Regions from separate parts of the Homo sapiens genome. Here region 2 is linked to region 1. The links come from fine-mapping of genetic effects on gene expression. A gene starts in region 1. The other region holds a variant in brackets. All regions are shown on one strand. Distances are from middle to middle.

Region 1 (5,524 bases):
GAGCAAAGATCACACCATTGCACTCCAGCCTGGGTGACAGAGTCAGACCCTGTCTCAAAATAAATAAATAAATTTTAAAAACACAGTTTCTAATGTTTGAGCATTTCCTTAGCATTCAATCAGTTTTTAAAGATTCCTTACTCTATCTTCAGCAATATTGGAGTCAAACAAAATAGAAGTCAAAGAGTAAATACATTTCTGGGAATTCTACATTTGACCAGTATTCAACCTATGGTGAAGCAATTAAGAGTTCTTGGGTTAAGCAATTTCCATATCTTTGTTTTTCCAGAATGAATTTCCAAATCAGTGTTTCAAGGCTTCCTAAGTATGAATGTTAATACACATAAGTTTCTGGGTTTAGGAAAGAAAAATATGAGTTTTTCACTCTTCTCCCTCTTCCTCCATACATTCTCTGCAGTGGTTCAATTTACTCAGAAGTAATTTCATTTGCTATTTTAAAGCTAAGTACACTGGCCTTTTCACTATAAATGCCTATATGAAAAACACAAAGCTCATGTGGTCATCAAAGCTGATTAAATGTTTGTGGTATTGCAATTTTGTTACAGGTGTGGTAAAAAAAGTTTGTGGTAGGTAGTTATGTACCATATTATTAGTTTGCAATAAATGACACAAGGGACTATGTTAAATTCCTAGTAAAAGCAAATTGATATTATGGAGTTTCATCTTTTGAAGTTGGTTATAAGTAGGTGGCCAGATTGAGCAAATAAAAAATTCAGGATGCCCAATTCGAGTTTCAAATAAACAATATTAGTATATCTCAAATATTTCATGGGGTATACTTAAACATTCATTGTTTATCTGAAATTCATACCAAATTGGGTATCCTCCATTTTATCCGACAACTCTTAATTATAGGAATAGGAAGATATTTCATTCAGGCTTATAAAAATCTGGCCAGACTAGCAGTAGGATATAAACAGACTAGGTGGTCCTACCTTTCTGTCACTGTTGGTCACCCAACAGTTAAGGAAGTTTCCAGCAAAGTCCTAGATTTGGGCTGGCATGTGACCAGATGCTGGTCTATTTTTATGCTGAGGTAAATGGGACAATTTTCCCAGGAATTCAGTAAAAACTGTAAAGGGGGTATGTGCTTAAGAGGGCAGAGGAGGATGCGTATTATACACTGCCACAGTAAAGGCCACTTCGAACAAATCTCCCCCACCCCAGGCAAATAGGTATAAATGATGGCCTATTAACTGGAAGAAGTTAGAGGGGGTTTTGAATGTGTGGACTGAGTATGCCAAGCAAAGGAACAGTGAGCAGGGAAACTGGCCTTGGAACAAGTGGATTCCACTGGAATGAAACAGGTCAAACTCAACATATCCAAACCGGAAAGCACGACCTTTCCCTTCAAACTCCTCCCCACTCCCTAAGTACATTCATGAATTCAGCAAGTATTAAAGCGGCCACTAGTGCCAGCAAGTACTGGCTCCAGGCATACACCCTTGAGCAGAACAGACGTAGTCCCTGCTCTCAGAGAACTTACAGCAGAGTGGGGAGACTCATATCATCACAAAAATAAATGATTAATTACACATTTTGACATTGCAATGACAGAAGGATGTTTGGTGCTATACATCTTTAATAAAGCTGGTATACTGCTACTAATTTTTAGGTGGTGATTATAATGAATAAACACAAAGGATTATTAGAAGGCATCCTGAGGATAAAACCTTTTAAGTACCACATAGTTTCCTATTTAGGGGAACAATATTCCATTAAAATTCACATTTTTGGAATTTGATTTCTTTCTTTTAAAAATTTATTTATTTTTTGCCCTTTTCCCCAAGTTCTGATGGAATTTGGTTTCTGTTTAGTAATGTTTGCTAGAATATGTACTTTTATATGAAACATTTGCATATTTGTTATTAGTACGATTAATCGTATTGTCACTGAACAAAAAGTAGAAGTAAATAATTTTGTTTGACGGGTAAACCTCTTCCATGTTCAGCCGATCTTTTTTTTTAAAAAAAATTATTATTATTTTCCCCAGATCAGAGATGTACAGCCCATCTTTCAATGATGATTCTACTCAACTGCTCCTGTGCCATCTCTGGTCCAGAGGATGTAATTCCTGCTAACTTGAAAGGGCAAAACTGACAAGTGCCTATTTCAGTAGCTTATTACCACTTAATGACAGAGGATAGCTTCCAGGAAAAGTACTATAATACATCGAAAAGGGGACTTTTAACTGTATCTGGTAGAATTCCAAAGCATTTAACACCCACTAGGGTCAACGCGGTGACTCCCATCCTACTGAAGTGCAGCCACTTCTGGCCTGGAGCGCAGCTGCTGGTTAACAGCTGTCCAACCTCAGTGCTCCCCACTCGAGACCTTTAAGAGGAGCTCACCGAACCCAATTAAATAACATATATCGTTAGTTTCAAATCACGCTTCTTGTGTCGTGCAAATTTATCTGGAACGGAGAGAAGTACCTCGTGCTTCTCGGGACTTCATCAACTCGGTTTTGGCAATTTTCTTCCTACTTCTTTATCCCTTTCTCTTTCCCCCCATGTACCACTCTAATCTGCCAGACGGAACAATTTAGCCTTTTTCAACTAAAGGACCGGAGGAAGGAAGAGTTAGAGAACTGGACTTGGGGATGAGCGGTGGTGTTAAACATTTACCGGGAGAGGGGAAGGGGCGGGTGCGCGAACAAAACCCCCAGGCAACGTTCCTCCAAGTGTGCGGCCCTACCTCCCGGTTCCCCCGCCTCGGGCAGGGCCGGACTGCCCAAGGCAGAGGCCAGCAGAGGAAGGAGGGCCGGAGCCCCCGCCCGCACCTTCCCCCACTCCAGCCGCATTTTCCCCGAACTCGTACGGGCGCTGGCCTCCGGGCAGCAGCCGGCCCGCGGGTCCCCGCGGGAGGAAGGCGAGCCAAAGCCCGGCGGCCACTCGGATTGTTACGCGCATTCAACTCCGCGGAGTGCGGGGCGCTGGGGTGCAGAGGGGTCTCCGCCCGGCGCCACCCAGGTCCCCAGGCGGGAAGCGGCTCAACTGGGAAAGCAGCCGGCGCCCGTGGTCTCCGGGCCGGCCGCCCGCGTTCTTCCGGCCAGCCCCCCGCGGAGGGGAGGGGCGCCGACGCCGCGTTCTCGGGGCCCCGCAGCCGGCGGAAGGGCCGCGCATCGCGGAAGCGCGGCGGCAGCTGAGGATCAGCTGCTGGAGGAGGCGGAGAGGCAGAGGGAGGAGCCTCGGGGGGAAGGAGAGGGAGGGGACCGTCAGGAAGCCGCGAACGCCGCCGAGTGTCTGCACACCTCGCTCTGCCTGCCATGGCTGGTTAAAGAACCATCCGGATCGCAGCGCGGGGGGAGGGCCGGGTGGGGGGAGCAGCGGCCGCGCGTGAGGCCGAGGGAGGGGCGGCGGCGCGAGCGGCGGCGGCGGCGGTTCCAGCATGAAGAGGAGAGCTGGCCTGGGGGGCAGCATGAGGTCAGTGGTGGGCTTCTTGTCCCAGCGGGGCTTGCATGGGGACCCCCTGCTCACTCAGGACTTTCAGAGGAGACGCCTGCGGGGCTGCAGAAACCTCTACAAGAAGGACCTCCTCGGCCACTTCGGCTGTGTCAATGCCATTGAATTCTCCAACAATGGAGGCCAGTGGCTGGTCTCAGGTAAATCAACCCCCTTCCCCTCCCCGCGCCTCCCCGCACCCTCCCAGCCTCCCCCTCTCGCTCTCCCCCGTCACCCTCCTCCTGCCCTCTGTCCCCACCCCCTCCCTTTCTCTACCCCCTTCTGCGGTGGGAAGGTTTGGTGTCAAATTAAAACCATTGCAGGGGGAGGGGAAGGAGAGGATGTCTTCTATAAAAAAGACCTAAAATGGTTGACAGCTCCTTAATTCGCTTTATCCCAAGTGCAAAGTGATCTCTCCTGATGCCTGCCCTGAAAGTGTAGGTCGGGGAGGGGGGCGAGGTTACCGCTCTACAAAGTTTGACGGCAAACTCTTCCTCCGCGTACTTTAAAAGGTGCTGGGGGCATTTTGGGGATGTGGAGGGTGAGGAGGCCGAGGAGCGCCGGAGGCAAGGGGGAGCTGAAGCCCCCGTCGCCGGCGTTAAGGAAAAGGGGTCTTGGGGCTGGGAAGCGGGCGGTGACAGACCCGGACGCCGAGGGGCCGGGGGCTGCGACCCGGGGGCTGGCGGGGTCTGCAGAGGGGAAGTGACTGGGGCGGTAGGGTCGCTGTGGGCCGCCCCCCTCGGCGCTCTTAGAGGCCCAGCACCATCGCCTTTCGTTCGGTTGTGGCCTCTTCTGCGTCTTGTTTTTAATACAGTTTCGAGAGTGGCGAGGGCTGTGGAGGCTAAAGGGCACCAGCCTGAACTTGAATGCGCAACTTGCGAGGCAGGCGGTAGGGTGGGGGACCCCCGGGAGACTTGTTGGCGGGAGCCCGGCGCCCCGCACCCCGTTTCCCGCGGCCGCTGTTGCAAGTGGTCTCTGCTTCTCCTCCCTCTCGCCCAGACGGGCCTGGTTGCCCCCGGGCTCTCCCTCTGGTTTGGGGAAAGTGGCGAAATCGAGGCCGGGGCTCCGGCCGGGCGGTGTAGGCCTCGCTCTCCCGGGGCTCCTAGCGACAGGCAGCTGAATCGATAGCCTATTGCTCCCGGGGAGGCCCGGGCCCCGCGGGCCGCGGCGACAGCTGCCCCTGGGGAGGTGCGCCTGCTGCCGGTGGGGGCGCTCGCCGCCGTCGTCCCCTCCTCCCTGGGGTCGCGGGCCCAGGGCAGGGGCGGGTGGGAATGGGCCTACGTGAGGGCTAGGGGGCGGCTCCCCGAAACCTGGCTCAGGGGAGGGGGGGTGAAGACGGCTGATTGGGCGTTCCTGCTTGGCTGCTGCCCTCTTCTGTCCCTTTTCCTATATTGGGAGGGATGAAGGGGGAACCCAGCGCTGGACGTGGCGCTTAGCTTCACCCAGGTCGGTCCCTGAATGTCTTTCTAATTTGTGTCCGTGAGCAGCTCGCCAGAAACTTCTGGGATCTTGGCAAAGCATCCGTCTTCGCGAGTAACCTTCGGAAGTGACATGGGGCGTACAGTCCAATTTGGGGGTAGCAAAGAGAAAGGTCTTCTGTGATCATTTTATGATAAACCTTCTGGGGTCTGTCCAGAACTGACTTGACTTTTGTACCCCAGATCGTTTTCTCTTTGACTAGGTAGATTTTGGCCCTAGATCATCCTCTGAAGAAACCTGATCTTTCAGACAAAAGCCTCCTTCCCCCACAGCACCGTATAAAATTTTATCAAATAAATTTGAAGAGCAAAAATGGGGGAAGACCTCTTCTTTATAGACCTAGCTCCCAGTTTCCCTGCTGTTGTTTTTTATGTATTCATAAAACTCCCGATGTATTACAACAGAGAAGTTCCCAGACACAAGTAAACTTTACCTACCGAGTGAGGGAGTTTGGGGGTACTCTTTTAGAGACAACTGAACTAATCATGTTAACGGAATTGTAAGTAGTCACACGTTGCCCAGCTTGACACACCTTTATTTACGTATTTATTTGAGACAGGGTATCACTCTGTTGCCCAGGC
Region 2 (5,000 bases), 32 kb after region 1:
ATTCAAGTAGCAAAGACAATTTCTTTCTAGGAGCAGGAGAATAAGTATGATTTGGCTTCTGTATCTTCTATTTTTTATTATAAGAAGAAATCTGCTGTGGCAAAAAGTCAAGCAGTATAGGAAGGTAGAAAGTAAAAGTTTTCCAACAGTATATACCCAAATTGAAAGGAGGGACTCAAAAAGTTATTTGTACACTTGTGTTCATAGCAACATTATTCACAATAGCCAAAAGGTGGAAATAACCCAAATGGTCATTGATGGATTAGTGGATAAACAAAATATGCATACAAATATATATACGATGGAATACTATTCAGCCTTAGAAAGCAAGGAAATTCTGATACATGCCACGACCTGGATGCACCTTGAAGACATTATGCTAAGGGAGTGAGCCAGACCTAGAAGGAGAAATACTGTGTGATTTGACTTATACGAGGTTCCTAGAGTAGACAAATCCATAGAGGCAGAAAGTAGAATAGTGACTACTTGGCCGGGCACAGTGATTCACGCCTGTAATCCCAGCACTTTGGGAGGCCGAGGTGGGTGGATCATGAGGTCAGGAGTTTGAGACCAGCCTGGCCAACATAGTGAAACCCCTTCTCTACTAAAAATACGAAAAATTAGCTGGGCGTGGTGGTGGGAGCCTGTAATCCCAGCTACTCAGGAGACTGAGGCAGGAGAATCGCTTGAACCTGGGAGGTGGAGGTTGCAGTGAGCCGAGATTGCGCCACTGCACTGCATACTCCAGCCTGGGCAACAGTGCGAGACTCCGTCTCAAAAAAAAAGAACAGTGACTAGGCACTGGGAGGAGTTATTGTTTATTGGGTACAGTATTTCAGTTTGGGATGATGAAAAATTTCTGAAGGTGAATAATGGCAGTGGCTGTACAACAGCACAAATGTACTTAATGCCACTGAATTGTACACTTGAAAATGGGTAAAATGGTAAGTTACATGTATATATATATATTTTACCACCATAAAAAGTCTCCCAACACCAGCCTACCAGTTATAGTTGGCACTATAAACAGCTTCTTTTATAGCCATCTAGATAGGGCTATGCAAATACAAGCATAGATATGCGAGTATAAGCATACTGTCAATGCATAGATATGCGAGTATAAGCATACTGTCAATGCTCATTCCTTGGAGCACTCATGTAGGTGCCAGGTATTTCCCAGTGAACAAAACTGACAAGGTTTCTGCTGTCATGGAGCTTTTAAAAATTTTGTTTTATGCAAATGGATTACATACTGTTTTATACCTCATTTTCCCCCTTAACGGGTATCTTTGGACATCTTTCTGCATTAGCTTTTGTATAGATCTAACAACTTAATGGCTTCATAGTATGCCCTTGTATGGATGTGCTATCATTTGTGGCTGCATTTTTCATTGAATGGAGTAAGGGAGGTGGAGGTGTAGAGCTTGCTATGGTTTGCTGCTGTTGTAAATTAAATTTTTATTAGGAAAATAGTATAGCCTTCTTATAAAAAGTCAATGCAAAAAAAGTAAAAGTAAAAAGTAAAAATGGGAAAAAACAATAACAACCAACTTAGACCCAAAGTTACGCAGAGTTAAGAGCTGGGCTGAGCCATATTCTGTCTAGATCCTATTACTGTAAGAGTCAGGTGATTTCTTAGTTATCATTTGTATGGTGTTCCACAATCAATGAGATCATATCAAGAAGATTGCTTTGAAAACCATTATGCTAGAAATATTACTTTAAAGTTCTTTGATTGCAAGCCCTGGAAGTCATCTCAGGTTCTATTAAACAAACAAACAAAAAAGGACTTCCATGAAGGGGTTCTAGGTAGCAAATGAAGAAATATTTAAACAACTCTGGAAAGACAGGAACAGGGTGGCTTTAGGAGTCTCAATATCAGTGCTTATCCCTTTCATTTTCTATGTCTGCTTAAGATTCAATTCCTGGGAGAGATGAATGGCCTAGAGAACACGTGCCTATTGATGGTGAAGCAGGGAGAGTCCTGGGTTTTTGTGCTCCATGCGAATCTTATGGAGTTGGGGAGGTGCAGTTTTGGAAAGGATGGGATTCAAGGCTGGCAAAACCATCTGTCAGCCTTGCGATGTCAGCTGTTTTAAGCACAGATTCTTATTTCCTTCTTAAGGAGGAGATGACCGCCGGGTTCTGCTATGGCACATGGAACAAGCCATCCACTCCAGGGTCAAGCCCATACAGCTGAAAGGAGAGCACCATTCCAACATTTTTTGCCTGGCTTTCAACAGTGGGAACACTAAAGTGTTCTCTGGAGGTAAAAAGGGAGATTCTACCTTGGGAACGTCACTGTGGTTGGGATTTTAGAGAAAAGAGTGCGAAAATAACTCCTTATTTTTCTTCCTGTATTTCATTGAGCTGTGGAATTACTGGTTTCTCATAGCTTGTCTTTTCTGCATTACAGCAGTATTATATATTAGGATAGTGTGTGTCTTTTCTCTCTTCTCTTTTTTTTGCTTTTCTTCACCTGTCTTTTTCTTTATTTCTCTTTGGCAGAAAACTTTTCACATTGCAGTCTGGTACACAGAAACACACACAGACACACACACATATTTGAAACAATACTTAACCTTCCTATTTGTGGCACACTCTGGTTTTTTTTTATTCTATTCGATTTCATTTTTAAAGATTATGCTGGCCATAA[C/T]GCAGATGAATGTCCTGACCCACAGATGGCTCCTGTTTGAAAAGTGTTGTGTTAGGGTACAATTGGAATGGCTGGTGCTCACACCAACCTCTTGGTGATGGCTTCCATCAACCATACTCCTTCTGACCCCACATTTCTAGTTCTGACCTCTTTTCTGAGCTGCAGATTTTCCCACTGGATATCTACCTGTGTTCCAAAAGCAACTTAAATACAATAGATCTAAAACCAAGATCATTAGTCCTCCCCTGAGTGAAAATTTCTTCTTGTCTGCTGGATTTTCTTTCTCAGTTACAACCATTCACCCAATTATATAAGCTATTAGGTTTAACTTTAAGAAATTGCTGACAATTAACCATTTTCAACTTTAAAAAGTAGCAGTTTCACATGGTTCATTCTACCTATGATCTTGGAGTCATCCTCAAACCTGCCTTTCTTACATTTACACATCTAGTCTGTCACCAAGTCCTGTCAGGTCTATCTTGAAAGCCTCTCATACTCATCCGTTAGTTTGGCCTGGATTTTTGCAATGGCCTTCTGTGATTTCTGTTACCACTCTCTAATTCTCCTTTGAATTCATTGCATACACAAGTTTACTTTTAAAAATAAAGACTGGACCATGTGAACCATTGAGCCTACAGTGCCTGAAGAATGAAGTCTAAATCCCAATCTATCTGTCTGGCCTGACCTCCCTTCCCTGAGTTATACACTGTAGCCCACCAAACTATTTGTCATTTTAAGAATGCACTGCATGGTACTATTTTGCCCTTGTGCCTTTTGTTCATGGTGTTCTTCCACCTTAATTGTCCAGTCCCCACCAATTCCCCTAAGCCTTTCATTGGTAAGAGTTTTGAGTTATTTGAGTTTCTCTTCAAAGGTCTCCTTCTCCATGTACTTTCACCCTGCTTATGAAGGAAATAATTGACCCCATAGCTAGATCATATTGCTGCAAGGCAAACCCTCTTGTTGCTGTTAGTTGTTTGTCCAGTTGGACTGTTCTCAAGTCCAATTGGAGTTCTCAAGGACAGAGTAGAATCTTATTCTTTTTATATACCCAAGACCTAGCACTGTACCTGATACCTAGAAGGCATTAGTATGGGTTTACTGATTTCATTGGTTTGTACCTACAGTAGAATTTACAGCCAGGCCTTTGTTTAAGATGCCCTGGGCCATATCTTTACTGCTACTTTTGCTTTCTATTTAAGTGACTGTTGGTTGTGCATTTTAGCATAGAGTGGGACTTTTTTCATGTTTTGTCTTCTTATATTCAGGTTTTAATTTTTTTGCTATACAAACCATTTGAAGGCAGGACTACACATATCATGAATATAATTTATATCCTTTGATAGAATAAGGAGAAATACAAGATTAAAACTTTCACATCATTTGGAATCACAGTCATCAAATTTTCATGCTATAAAAGATGATGAGGCTGGGCATGGTGGCTCACACTTGTAATAATCCCAACACTTTGAGAGGCCAAGGCAGGAGGATTGCTTGAGCCCAGGAGTTTGAGACCAGCCTGGGCAACATAGTTAGACCCCAACATGTTAGATCTCTACAAAAAAAATTTTTTTTTTAATTAGCCAGGCATAGTGACACATGCCTGTAGTTCCAGCTACTAGAGAGGCAGAGGTGGGAAGATTGCTTGAGCACAGGAGGTCAAGACTGTAGTGAACCATGATTGCACCACTGCACTCCAGCCTGGACAACAGAGCAGGATCCTGTCTCGAAAGAAAGAAGAAAAATTTTTAAAAGACAAACAGAGCAAGATCCTGTCTCAAAAGAAAGAAAGAAAGAAACATTTTTAAAAGACCATGAGGATAGAAATATTAACAAACATTTATTGGGGGCTTATTAAGTGATCAGCCCTATTCTGAATGCTTTTACAGATGTACTCTTATGCTTACAGTTACTCTATGATGTTATTATCCCTATTCTGTAGGTTAAAAAGTTAGGTCATAGAAATGCTAAAGATTTTATTGCAGGTCTCATGATTAGTGAGTGTTCTGCTGAAAAAGAAAAAAAATAAAGCTAGTGAATTGATTTGTCAATGATCATTTAGTGTTTTTCTTGATGGCCACAGTTTTGTTTTGTGTTGTTTCCCCCCTACTTTTTTTTTTTTTTTGAGACAGTCTCTCTCTGTTGCCCAGGCTGGAGTGCGATCGTAGCTCACTGCAGCCTTGAACTCCTGACCTCAAGCGATTCTTCCACCTCAGCCTCCTTAGTAGCTGGGACTTCAAGGGTGTGCCACCAGTTGGCTAATTTTTTTATTTTTATTTTCATAGAGATGGAGTCTAACTATGTTGCCCAGGTTGTAGCCACAGTTGTTTTTTTTTTTTACATC

The links. PIP is the estimated chance that this variant, and not a neighbour inherited with it, causes the effect.
Region 2: its variant is the best candidate, but not a certain one, in a credible set for the expression of DCAF5 in whole blood (TOPMed, PIP 0.85).

The regions. Positions count from the first base shown.
Region 1 is chr14:69,150,866-69,156,389 of GRCh38, reverse strand. DCAF5 (DDB1 and CUL4 associated factor 5) reads left to right here and starts at 3,271. Exons shown (of 9, transcript NM_003861.3): 1 at 3,271-3,625. The coding sequence starts at 3,412. RefSeq lists silencers at 2,827-3,466, 4,287-4,336, 4,497-4,956.
Region 2 is chr14:69,119,486-69,124,485 of GRCh38, reverse strand. It overlaps DCAF5 (DDB1 and CUL4 associated factor 5), which reads left to right. Exons shown (of 9, transcript NM_003861.3): 2 at 2,126-2,269. Among named protein-coding and RNA genes, the nearest start is that of DCAF5, 31 kb to the left of the region's middle. The variant C/T (reference allele first, on the strand shown) is at 2,657.